3 linked regions of the Homo sapiens genome follow. The protein of the gene in region 2 purifies or fractionates together with the protein of the main gene of each other region. This does not show direct contact. Each region holds a gene or a part of one and is shown on either strand. Other genes may lie near its edges. The genes, in order: ODR4, BTN3A3 and DPY19L1.

What was found.
Region 1: the proteins of BTN3A3 (region 2) and ODR4 purify together in Homo sapiens (affinity purification with mass spectrometry; one large-scale study listed by BioGRID and IntAct). This does not show direct contact.
Region 3: the proteins of BTN3A3 (region 2) and DPY19L1 purify together in Homo sapiens (affinity purification with mass spectrometry; one large-scale study listed by BioGRID and IntAct). This does not show direct contact.

What each region holds. Positions count from the first base shown.
Region 1 is NC_000001.11:186,385,683-186,389,337, forward strand, and holds part of ODR4 (protein odr-4 homolog), read left to right. Parts: intron 1-305; coding exon 306-401; intron 402-2,759; coding exon 2,760-2,866; intron 2,867-3,655. UniProt on the Homo sapiens protein: May play a role in the trafficking of a subset of G-protein coupled receptors.
Region 2 is NC_000006.12:26,439,109-26,443,392, reverse strand, and holds the start of BTN3A3 (butyrophilin subfamily 3 member A3 isoform a precursor), read right to left. Parts: upstream 2,890-4,284; 5' UTR 2,745-2,889; intron 12-2,744; 5' UTR 1-11. UniProt on the Homo sapiens protein: Plays a role in T-cell responses in the adaptive immune response.
Region 3 is NC_000007.14:35,016,918-35,020,572, forward strand, and holds part of DPY19L1 (protein C-mannosyl-transferase DPY19L1), read right to left. Parts: intron 1,680-3,655; coding exon 1,655-1,679; intron 1,053-1,654; coding exon 965-1,052; intron 1-964. UniProt on the Homo sapiens protein: C-mannosyltransferase that mediates the C-mannosylation tryptophan residues on target proteins.

The sequences.
Region 1 (3,655 bases), on a different chromosome or scaffold from region 2:
TAGTGTCAAATGAGGGTATAAACATCATTGACCAGATCCTAGAAAGTCTGAAATATCAATCTAAAATAAAACTTCATTTTATTTAGCTGATGGTGGGACGCCATTGAAAAAATATTTCAGTCTTTGATCTCCTGAGAAAAGGATTTATTTATTGATGTAGCTAAAGGATGTTGTTATCAGATAGTTTTATTTATAAAGTAGTTTTAAGGTGAAAAGCTAAGGACATGCTAAGCAGACAGTTTCTCAAACAGAAAGGATTGCATATAATGCCAATTTGTTAGCTAATAATATATTTCTATTTTTAGGTATCCAGAATGCTACCAGGGGGACTTTTAGTTCTTGGAGTATTTATTATTACTACTTTAGAACTGGCAAATGATTTTCAAAATGCCCTGCGTAGAGTAAGTTTGATATATCGAAAATTCTTAATGAAATCAGTTATATGTTATTTTTACTGATTATGAGTATGTGTAATGATTCTAGGCATATTTACATTTGTTTTCCATAATTCTTTTTGTTGGGGTTACATTGAAAAAGCTTTTGTCACTCAATTGCTTGGATATCTTGAGTGTAAAAAATGTTTATATTTTTAAAAACTACACATTTTATTTATTATTTTTTCCATGGGTAATTTTATTCTTTATTTAGTACACTACCCAAAACAGGGCTATCATCAGCCCATATGGCATTTCATACAAATTTGAAAAAGCTATTCTTTCCTCAAGTTAAAAAGTTAAATTATTTACTTCTCAATAATAACCATGACTAATGACAGTAATTCCATGTAAATTATGCAAACAAATAATTCATTGTAAAATATTGAAAAATTCAAATGATTAATTATAATATTAAGAACTCAAAGTCACTTGGATCTAATAATTTGTTGTAAAAAAGGCATCTTTGTGGAAGTAATTCTTTTTGACAGAAAAACTACATATTTTAAAATAATCTTTATTTTAGAGGTAATTTCTGACTATTAGGAAACAAATTATAATGCTTTAAACAGTTTTTCTTATGCAATAGCAGTATTCTGTCACACCTTCCATTTAGTACCTAGTGATTACTGTAACATGAAATTAATAGGTGCTGAAATTCTTTACCTTCTTCTCAATTCTCCGGAGATCCTGAGAGTAAAACATAAACAATCAGATTATTCCTGGACACAGTATCTATCAGAAATCTCCTGTGTTTTTTGCTTAATTGCTGCACCAGAGAATTGGGTAACATAGTGTAAAAGTAAATATGAAGGTCCACATGCTGTTTTCCCTTAAACCCAAACCTAAGGTAGATTCTGTGTAGCCAGCTCTTTTAGCATTCAGGATCCACATGAACTTTTTGAAGGGTATTTCATACCCCAAAAGAGGGGGAACCTTAAAATCTTGAGACATATAAAACCCAACCCCAACAGTATCCCAGAAAAACATTTTTTAGGTAAAAAATATACAGCTGAGAACTTCAGATGTTACAGATTTTTTCAGTCTTGTAACCTGTCCTGTCAGATGTCCCAGCCTCAAGCCTTTGATATTTGCACCTAAGGGAGTAAGGGAAGAAAATGGAGATATTCTCCTCCCTGCTAAATTGTTTAACCCTCTGCCAACTTTTCCATCTTAAATAAATTTACCTTGTTTACAATTGTTCATTCTCTTTGGCATTTTGAAATTTAACCGAAATCTATGCGTATTTAATATTAATAGCATTCATTGTGCAACCTTTTTTGGCTGGTGCTGAATTGAGGGGGTTGAATGTGGGCCCAGTGCTAGAGAGATACAGCCAGGCCCACTTTCCTTGCTTTTGTATCTTTTGTTCCTAAAAAGTATATAAAACTTTAGAAATGCTTTATCTCTGACATTACTGAGTTTCAATTATCTAATTGTTTCCACTGGCTACACTGACAAACACTACAAGAAACAGCCTTATAAAACTTGTCAGTGTCACCCATTATTGTTAAGGACTTTATTCATCATATTACATTAATATTGTGTTTCCGGAAGAATTTCTTTTTATATTATGAAGAAGGTTGTGCCTCCTCTGATGATTGTTTTTAGCTTACAGACCATGTGAATTAGGTTACAGATTAGATTTCTCTCTGCACATTATTGTTAGAAAGCTTAGACCGAAATGTATTACCACCCCTTACATCAAGTATGCATTTTTATAATTCTTATTTCTGACACAAATTTATCTCACTATTCTACTTTAACTTTCAATTTGTTATTACTATATTTTATATGTTGTTATATATTGCCTTAAGTCTTGTGTGACGTTTAAATAAGAAATGCTAAATGGGTGACATGCTTGATTTCTTTAGTTAAAATCACTTATCATTTCTCATTCTAATTAAAGTCTCTGTTCTATAGTTTATATAAATTCTAGTTGCCCCAAATTAATTTTTTGTGTCCAGTTAATCTCTAATGATAGTGAATTAAATTTTTTTATTTAAACCCAATTTTTCTGTAATTTCCTAAAAGGAATTCAAAAATGTTAGTAATTAGCTCCAGTCTTTAATTTGAAGAAAAGAAAAATTAATGGTGGCACACACCTGTAGTCCCAGTTACTTGGGAAGCTGAGGTGAGAGAATCACTTGAGCCCAGGTGTTCAAGGCCAGCTTGAGCAACATAGTGAGACCCCTTCTCCAATAAATAAAGAATCATGGAATTTTAAAGCTAAATGAGAGTTGGGGACATTATAATTGCCTATTTCAACACTCATCTTTTTTTTTCATTTTACATTCAATTAGTGTGTATTTTTCTCTCTTTCAGCTAATGTTTGCTGTGGAAAAGTCTATAAATAGAAAGAGATTGTGGAATTTCACAGAGGAGGAAGTCTCAGAACGAGTGACACTTCACATTTGTGCTTCTACAAAAAAGTATCTTTTGTTCAGTTTATGGTTTAAAAGTACAAAGTACCAAAATAATATTCTTGCAAGGTTTTTTTGCTATTTATTTAAATCATCATTTAAAAAATAGGCATAGTTTTGTAAGATTTTTCTGTAAATAACATGGAATTAGAGCCACCAATAATAATAATAGCAATAATGGTTGTTAATCATGTCCCAAGGTGATAAAAAGCTTGAGATCTGTAATATGAAAGACTCAGGATTCTGAATTTTTTACCAGCTATCTGCCCTGTACATCCAAGCACAGCAGATTCCCTACAGAGATAAATGCCTAACTGATGGCTTAGGCAAAGTAATGTTTTTATTATGTTAAAGTTTTCACCTCCAGTTTCTATAGATAAGGATGTACAATTCAAAGCACAGGTGCACAGAGCTGGATGGTATAGGACATCGGAGAAATTCTTATGTCTTTGGCTAAGATGAAATGACACTAAAAGCCAGTTACACGGCCTCTTACCAGGGCAAGAGTACCTCCCAAGCAAGGGTCATCCTCACCAAAGGAGTGACACGATCCATGGACTTCCAAAGACAGAATTTTAAAAGTGACCATTCCTGCAGAAGCAGGGCTTTTTTTTTTTTTAACAACAACAAAAAAAATCTTTAGTATTTAACTGCAAAGTTTCATATACAAGCCCTTTAATCCAATAAATAGTCTCAGGTTTGACCTCATATAAAACAGTGGTACTTTTTCTTATGGAGAGTGTATATTTGAGAAGAATCTCACGAGTGCTTTGATTCTATTTATTGCAATTAGCGGGA
Region 2 (4,284 bases):
TGGAAAACCATCTGTAAAAATAATATCTGTTATCTGATCAGGACATCTCTGACTCTACTGCATTAAAATATTAAAATATTCATAATCCTATCACTTCCCCACACTTCCCTTGCCAGGTCCAAGCTTCCATCATCCCCCTCTGATTCATGAAGGACCCTCTTCACTGGATTCCCTGGTCCCACCCTTGTTCAGCTCTGTGGGTGTCCAACACTGTGGACTCCTCAAGCATCAAACTCTTGGCCATTACTACAGTCAACTTATGGCCTGGTGGCTCCTGGTGGGATCCAGGCAGACTGCCTGGCAGAGGCTCTGAAGTCAGTCAGGGGCTGAACCCACCACGTTTAATCACAAAGATATTGATTAGGAGAGCTTTGAATAAGACCAGGCCTTACTCATCTTTTCTTTCTTCCCTTCATAAAGTCATTCAACAAGTATTTACTGAGCACCCACAATGGGTGAGGCCTACTATATTAGTGTTAAGGACATAAAGAAGGTAAGCAATAGGTAAAGGCTCTAAGATTCACAAGCTGTGTGATCTTGTTCATGGGACAAAACCATTGGAACTTTATTGATTCATACAATATCATGAAGTGTGAAATTTCGAATGTGCACAATTGGGTCCAGCAATTCCACTTTCTGATGTCTAGTCTAGCAAAGTACTTGCATGAGTGCAGAGAGAAGCCTCTGTGAGAATGACACTGCAGCACTGTTTTTAAAGTATAAAAGTGGTAACCGACTGAACCAGCCACCCAACAGGAGACTGTTTAGAGGAACTACGGCTCATCCCTCAGAGGGAATTCAATGCAGCAGGTAAAAAGAGTTGATTTATTGTCATGAACCTAGATAATGGTGATACACTAAGCGGTCAAAAAGCATGTTGCAGAACTACACTAATGATTCAACTGAAAAACAAAAACAAAGCTATACATTTCTGCATATTTATAGATGTAAACGCCTGAAAAAGTCTAAAAAGATGCATGCTAAACTGAAGATCGGAAGTTAAGTGAGCAAAAGAACACGTTGGCCTTTTGCTCCCTTTACTTTTAAAATATTGAAATGCTTTAAATTTAAGATTTTTCATGTATTACTTAACAGTAATTATTATGAGTGATAATACTGACTGGAACATATAAGCTGCTCAGTAAATACTAACTCCTCAACAGTTTCTTCCAAAGCAAAGGAGCATGAGGCCTGCAGCCACAACACCCGCTGCTGTAGCTACCTGAGTCTGGGAATGGCCTCTGAGAACAAGGTCTGCAGAGGGAGGTGGGGAGGGATGAAGAGAAAGCACCGGAACAGAGGTCTGTGCAGCCGGCCATCCTCCACCCTCGCCTGGATCTTGCACTGACCCAGACTAAATATTGCATTTCACATCTTCTGTTCCTCAAAACTTCTCTTTATGTTGCTATAGAAGGGGTATCATTTTTATTATCACTGGTTTCAAAGTTAACAATTTCTCTGCTCTGCTTAGAGTGAGACATATGTTTTCATTCTTTTTAAAGGATGTTTATATTTTCTTCCTGATTATAGTCAATATTGCAAATGAAGAAAAGCATAAAGGAATAAAAGTTCAGTGGCTCATGCCTGCAATCTTAGCAATTTGGATGGTCAAGGTGGGAGGATTCCTTGAGCCCAGGGGTTTAAAACAGCCTGGGTAACATAATGAGACCCCCATTTCTACAAATTAGTCAATCAATAAAATTAAAACTCTGTAGTAGTAATCATATACTTTGGTAGTAGAAATATAAATATTTCTCAAAGCATTTTGGTCATATATACAGCAAGCATCTTTAAAAAGTTACATGCTCTACCAAGGAAATGCTATTAAAAAAAAAAGTTGTATGCTTTACCCAAAAGTTCCACTTATAGGAATTATTGTTGAGGCAAAAAAAAAAGACAGAAATTAAGACAAAAATTTATGTCTGAGGTTGTTAAATATAATAAAATCTATACAGTAGCCAAATGTAGATAATTGAAATAGCCAAAATTAGTAAAGTATTACAAAATAATTATATATTCACACAATGAAATAGATTGTGTCCATTGAAACACATATATTGGGTTATGAGGAAATGATTAATGGAAGGAAAAACAGATACTGTACCTAAAACATACAAAACAAGGTTTAATGTATGGATCTAATGCTGTTAAAATGAGAAATAATTGCCCTTCATTAAAAACATGATGCCTAAAAGCTGCATAGAAATCTCTTTTATGATAGAGCCACGCACTGTTTGTCTACCCCCTGCCTGTTGTATGTGTATGCTGGTTCAGATTTTTCTATATTATAAGTATTTCTGTAATGAACAAATTTACATATGAATCTATAAGGCACATCTCTTTCTAGAATCTCTTAGAATAGATGGCTTGTGTTGGCCAAAACAGATTTTAGCGACTTTTTTGCCCTTTTCTGACCACAATAAGTTCTTAAGAACATGCAGTTGGAATATTTCTTCATTTATGTTGTCTCCCTCTCCTTCCACCAAATCCCAATATCTGCAGGTCTTTATTCTTTGCACTACTTGCCTCTTCTCCATGTGCCCACATGTGTGCATGGGTGCCCATGCGCACACACGCACACACACACACACACACACACACACACACACACACACACACAGAGGCACTGCACCCCTTTCCCTGGGCAAGTACTCTCCCTGCATGCCCACTCACCACTCTCAGCGATTCAGCTCTTGTCCTCCCAGGCATTGTAGCCCAGGCTCTAATCAACATTCCCCACTTACTTCTTAGTATTCCCCTCTGAAAATCACAGCCCACTGAAGAATGGTGGTTAATAGTTCTCCATTCTTTCTATTATGGTTGAGTCTCTCATTCCGAAGAAAGGAAAAAGAAAGCAGAGGCTATCTGGTTATTGTGAGGAATAATAACAATCTCTTTTTGGAAGAATTAGTTTTTTGATTGGCTCAGAGGTGATGTTTCTCATCAGTTGCTGGGAGGAAACCACTGAGGAGGGTTGAAATGAAAAGTGAAAGTACATTGAATTGTACACGTTGCAGAAAAATTCCAGCCGTACCTCCCTTAGTGTTTGTGTTTCTGTGTTTATCTATTTGAATCATTATTGCGTGTCCATGTATATAAGTATTTCTACATATTTACTTAAGTCTTTTATCATAATAGAAATAGCAGCAGAACAAAATGAGAAAAGATTATAATGTGGTGAAGAGAGAAAGTTGTGCACTAATTAAAATGCTACTGTGGCAGTTTGCTAACATTTGCTTGCATGAATATGGGTACCTGAAGGAGGAGATTTTACTACAGCGTCAAATAAATGTATACATGGAAAGAAAGCCAGACGCAATGCACATTTTTAAGCACCTCCAGCATCCAGACTTAGGATCTGTTATCAAATAATATAATGTTTCTGGTTTCCAGAGGCAGTGCTGATTGACATTTTTTACCTTTTTCAGGAAACTTTTAGTGCAGGTGTTTCTGAGCATCTTCATTCGCCCTCAGCTCCTGGTTTGTGCTATATTGTATTTTCCTGTGTATTTATTTCTCGTGCTGCCAGTGGAGTACATATTATCTGAAGCTGGAATCTAGATAGACTACAAATGCCATCTCTGTAAGAGGTCTGTGAGACAAACTGGTTCTTCCTGTGGCCTAGGACCTCAAAACACACTTTTTGGATTTGCAAGTCAGTGATCAAAACTCCTAAGATTAAGATGTGACTGGGGTTGATGAAATTTGATTATATTGTAACAGTTTGAATTTAGGCTGTGCAGTATCTGGTTGAGATGGCTGGTCCCTTCTGCATCATGCAGTCCCCCTTTCTTCTTGGTGATAAAGCCTAATTTTCTTGGGTACTTCAATAGGCTCTGCTATCTCATAGATACCAGAGAACAAGGGACTAAGTTGGAATCAATAGTTTGTAGGTAAAGTTGTGGGCTTGTGTTTCTCCCAGAGATCCTTCAGAATGGAGGCCAAGATAGCTGGGAGTGTGAGTGTACACTCTCCGTACTTCCTTCTTCCTCTTGTCTTGGATGTAGACTTTTGAACTAGAGGTGCGGCAGCCCTCTTAGAACCATGAGGCAACCTTGAGGTTGAAAGCCACATGCAGAGACAGCAGAGAATGAAGTCAGAAGCAGGCTGGGGCATGAATGACATCTCTGAGCTGCCAGGTCAGCCCTGGACTACCGCCATCTAAATTCATTTTACATGAAAACAAACAACAACATCAAGAAAAAACAAGAAAACCCTTGTTTTGTTTAAGCCAATGGTATTTCTGGTCTCTGTTACCAACAGAATCCCACAATTCTTCCCTCC
Region 3 (3,655 bases), on a different chromosome or scaffold from region 2:
TATTAAAAGACTTAAGATACACATCAACTAAATGCAATGTGTAGGCACTGTTTGGATCCTATTCAAACACATCAACTGTTTTTTTGTTTTTTTTTTTTTAAAGTGCCAAACAGGGCATTTAAATACTGATTTCTATTTGATTATATTAAGGATATTGTTAAATGTTTTCCAGTATGTCTTGTGCCATGGTTTTGTGCCATAGTTAAAACAAAGTCTTATCTTTAGAGACACTTATGAAAGTATGAAAGCATGAAATGATATAATGTCTGGGATTCCCTTTAAAAAGAGATAGTTGGCCGGGCACGGTGGCTCACGCCTGTAATCCCAGCACTTTGGGAGGCCGAGGCGGGTGGATCATGAGGTCAGGAGATCGAGACCATCCTGGCTAACAAGGTGAAACCCCGTCTCTACTAAAAAAATACAAAAAATTAGCCGGGCGCGGTGGCGGGCGCCTGTAGTCCCAGCTACTGGGGAGGCTGAGGCAGGAGAATGGCGTGAACCCGGGAAGCGGAGCTTGCAGTGAGCCGAGATTGTGCCACTGCAGTCCGCAGTCCGGCCTGGGCGACAGAGCGAGACTCCGTCTCAAAAAAAAAAAAAAAAAAAAATTAGCCGGGCATGGTGGCAGGCACCTGTAGTCCCAGCTACTCAGGAGGCTGAGGCAGGAGAATGGCGTGAACCTGGGAGGTGCAGCTTGCAGTGAGCCGAGATGGAGCCACTGCACTCCAGCCTGGGCGACAGAGCGAGACTCCGTCTCGAAAAAAAAATTAATAAATAAAAATAAAAAATAAAAAAGACATAGTGAGTGGGGGTGTAGATGAAGGAAAACTGGCTGTGGCTGTCAGCTGTAGAAGGTGGAGCATCTACTCTTTCTACTTTGGAACATCTTGAAATTTTCCATAATAAAAAATATTAAATGTTTTTAAATTCCTAAAGTACTATGATGAAATCCCAAATAAAAACTAACCATTTCAGTGCGAAAAGCCATCTCCCTTTCCAATGTTGAGAGGTGAGAAAAATGACGGTCATTTTCAAAGAGGTGTGTTATATGGCTCCTGGAAAAACAAAACAAAGCAATAGTGTTAAAACTTACACTCTAAGTATTATTTTTTAAAGTAAGCTAAAAGCAAAAATAAAAGTATCAGTTAACTTGCAGATAATTTTGTAATAACACTCAAATACAATAGTATCTATATTTTTTTCACTCAGTATGTATTGCATTTATACTAAAATTTCCCTCTCTAAAAAATCAAATTAGATTTTAAAATTAAAATGAACCAGAATATTTTAAGTGAAGTACAATAAAAGTATAGATTAAACTGTAAATGTCATTGGGTTACCATTTTAGAAACATCTAATGAAATTCATATTTCTATCTAGAAGATTAAATAAATTAATCTCTCTCTCACCATGAACATATTAATGTTGAGTGGAGTCTCAAATATAGCCTCTTTAATAATGAATCTCTTTTTTATTAAACAATTATATTATTCTGACCCTGATTTATCAATTAAACTAGTTTTTCAGACTATTGTGTTACATGTAATATATATTCATACTGATCATGCTGAAATTATTCCTTTAAATGTATGGGAAATAGCTTTAGCAAGTTATAAACGTCTGCATAAAATACCATAGGAGAAAAAAACAATCTTACCAGTGCAACACTGCTGCAAAAACAGCTGTAAGAAAAAAGAAATTTAAATTAGAATTTTAGCATAAACATGTTCATCTTACAGAAAAGCCATTTCAAAGATAAAGCATGTCAAATATTGAAATGTGTAAAAAAGAATACTGGGTCTTCAAAAAAGTCCCAGGGCTACGTTTAAAATTGTGATTGACTAGCTCATAAGGGAATTAAGCATACAGCCACCATTTTCACTCACTCACTCATTCAACAAAATATATGAAGGCCTAATATCCGCTAATAGACAGAAACCATTAGATGGAAACTATTGCTAATAGAACTGAGAGAGGAATGGAATCAACAGGTAAGGATAACTTAGAATAAAGAAATATGGTGGCTGAGGGGTACAGGATTGGGGGTGGAAGAAAAAAGGGAACTACCACTTCTGATATACTGCTGCAATGCCTGAAATTTTATGACAAATATTAACCCGTGTCTTTAAACAAATTTAAAATGAAATGAGTAAAGGAGAAGAAAAGGTAAGAGAGAGAAAACAAGCTAGTAATAAAATCAGTCTCATATGAAAATCAATACCTTGCTATCTGTCCAAGCAGAAAGAACATACTAAGATGAACCTGGAAGACACCATTCAATTTTCTTATCTCACAAGATACAGCTGATGGCAGGCTTCTGATTAAATAACTCTTAACTAAGGAATCAACCTATGAAAATACTCCTAGAAAGGAAACCCAGGCCAGATACAGTGGCACATGCCTGTAGTATCCATTACTGGGGAAGCAGAGGCAGCATCATCTCGAGCCCAGGAATTCAAGGCTGCAGCAGTGTGCTATGACTATGACTGTTAACAGCCACTGCTCTCTAGCCTGGGCAACATACTGAGACTCTGTTTCTCAAAAAAACAAAAGAAAGAGAAAAAGAAGAAGTAGGAGGAAGAAGAAGGAAAAAGAAAGAAGAAGAAGGAAGAAGAGAAGGAGAAGGAAGAAGAAAGAAGGAAGAAGAGGAGGAGAAGGAAGAGGAAAGAAGGAAGAAGAGAGGAGGAAGGAAGAATAAGGAGGAAGAGAAGGAAAGAAAAATGAAAACCAAATAGATCAGATCTTATTGTTTTATTCTTAAAGTCAGTTATATTTTTTCATTTAAAAATCCATTTTGCCTTGGAAATACGAATGGTTACTTCTAGATAATTGAAGTTACAAATATCTAACTTAGTTTGTCATTTGACTTTTTTTAATAAGATATATTGATCTTTTGAAATTTTAAATTTTTTTCTTATTAACAAATCTACCATTTGCTTCCTTTTAGTTTCTGTCTTTAAAAACTTTATCTGCCAGGCTCATGACTATAATCCCAGCTACTCGGCTGGAGGAAGTAGGGGGATCAGCTGAGGACAGGAGTTTAAATCTAGGCTGGGTAACACAGCAAGATCAGGTCTTTACAAAGCACGAGCCTATTGTCCCAGCTACTCAGGAAGGCTGAGCTGGGAGGATCGCTTGAGTCCAAGAGGTTGAGGTTGTAGTCAGCTATGATCACACCACTGTACTCTAGCCTGGATGACACAACAAGACCCTGTCTCTAAAGAAAAAAAATAATAATAATCCTAACATAATAAAATTTGGTCTTTATTTTCACAATGATTCAACTATCATTTTCTGAATAAATTATTTTTCTCCCATTGAATGTAAATGCAACTTTTATCATACTGAAGACTTGCCATGCTTCTACTTTGGTAATCACTCTGAGGTTATAATTGGATTTTCACTTATAAAATTAATTTGGGAAGAATTTACACGTTTACAATATAGAGCCTTCATATCCATAAATGTGGTGTGGGTATATACATATGTTGTATATATAGGTATGTGTATATATACATAACATATATCTTCAATTGTTCAAACTGTTTTTCGATAGTCCTTGAGAAAAATTCTACAGGTATTGTTAACATATGCATTTCTTATGAAGTTTCTCCTGGGAGTTAAACATTTTTTTCCTGCTAATATTCATAAAATGTTT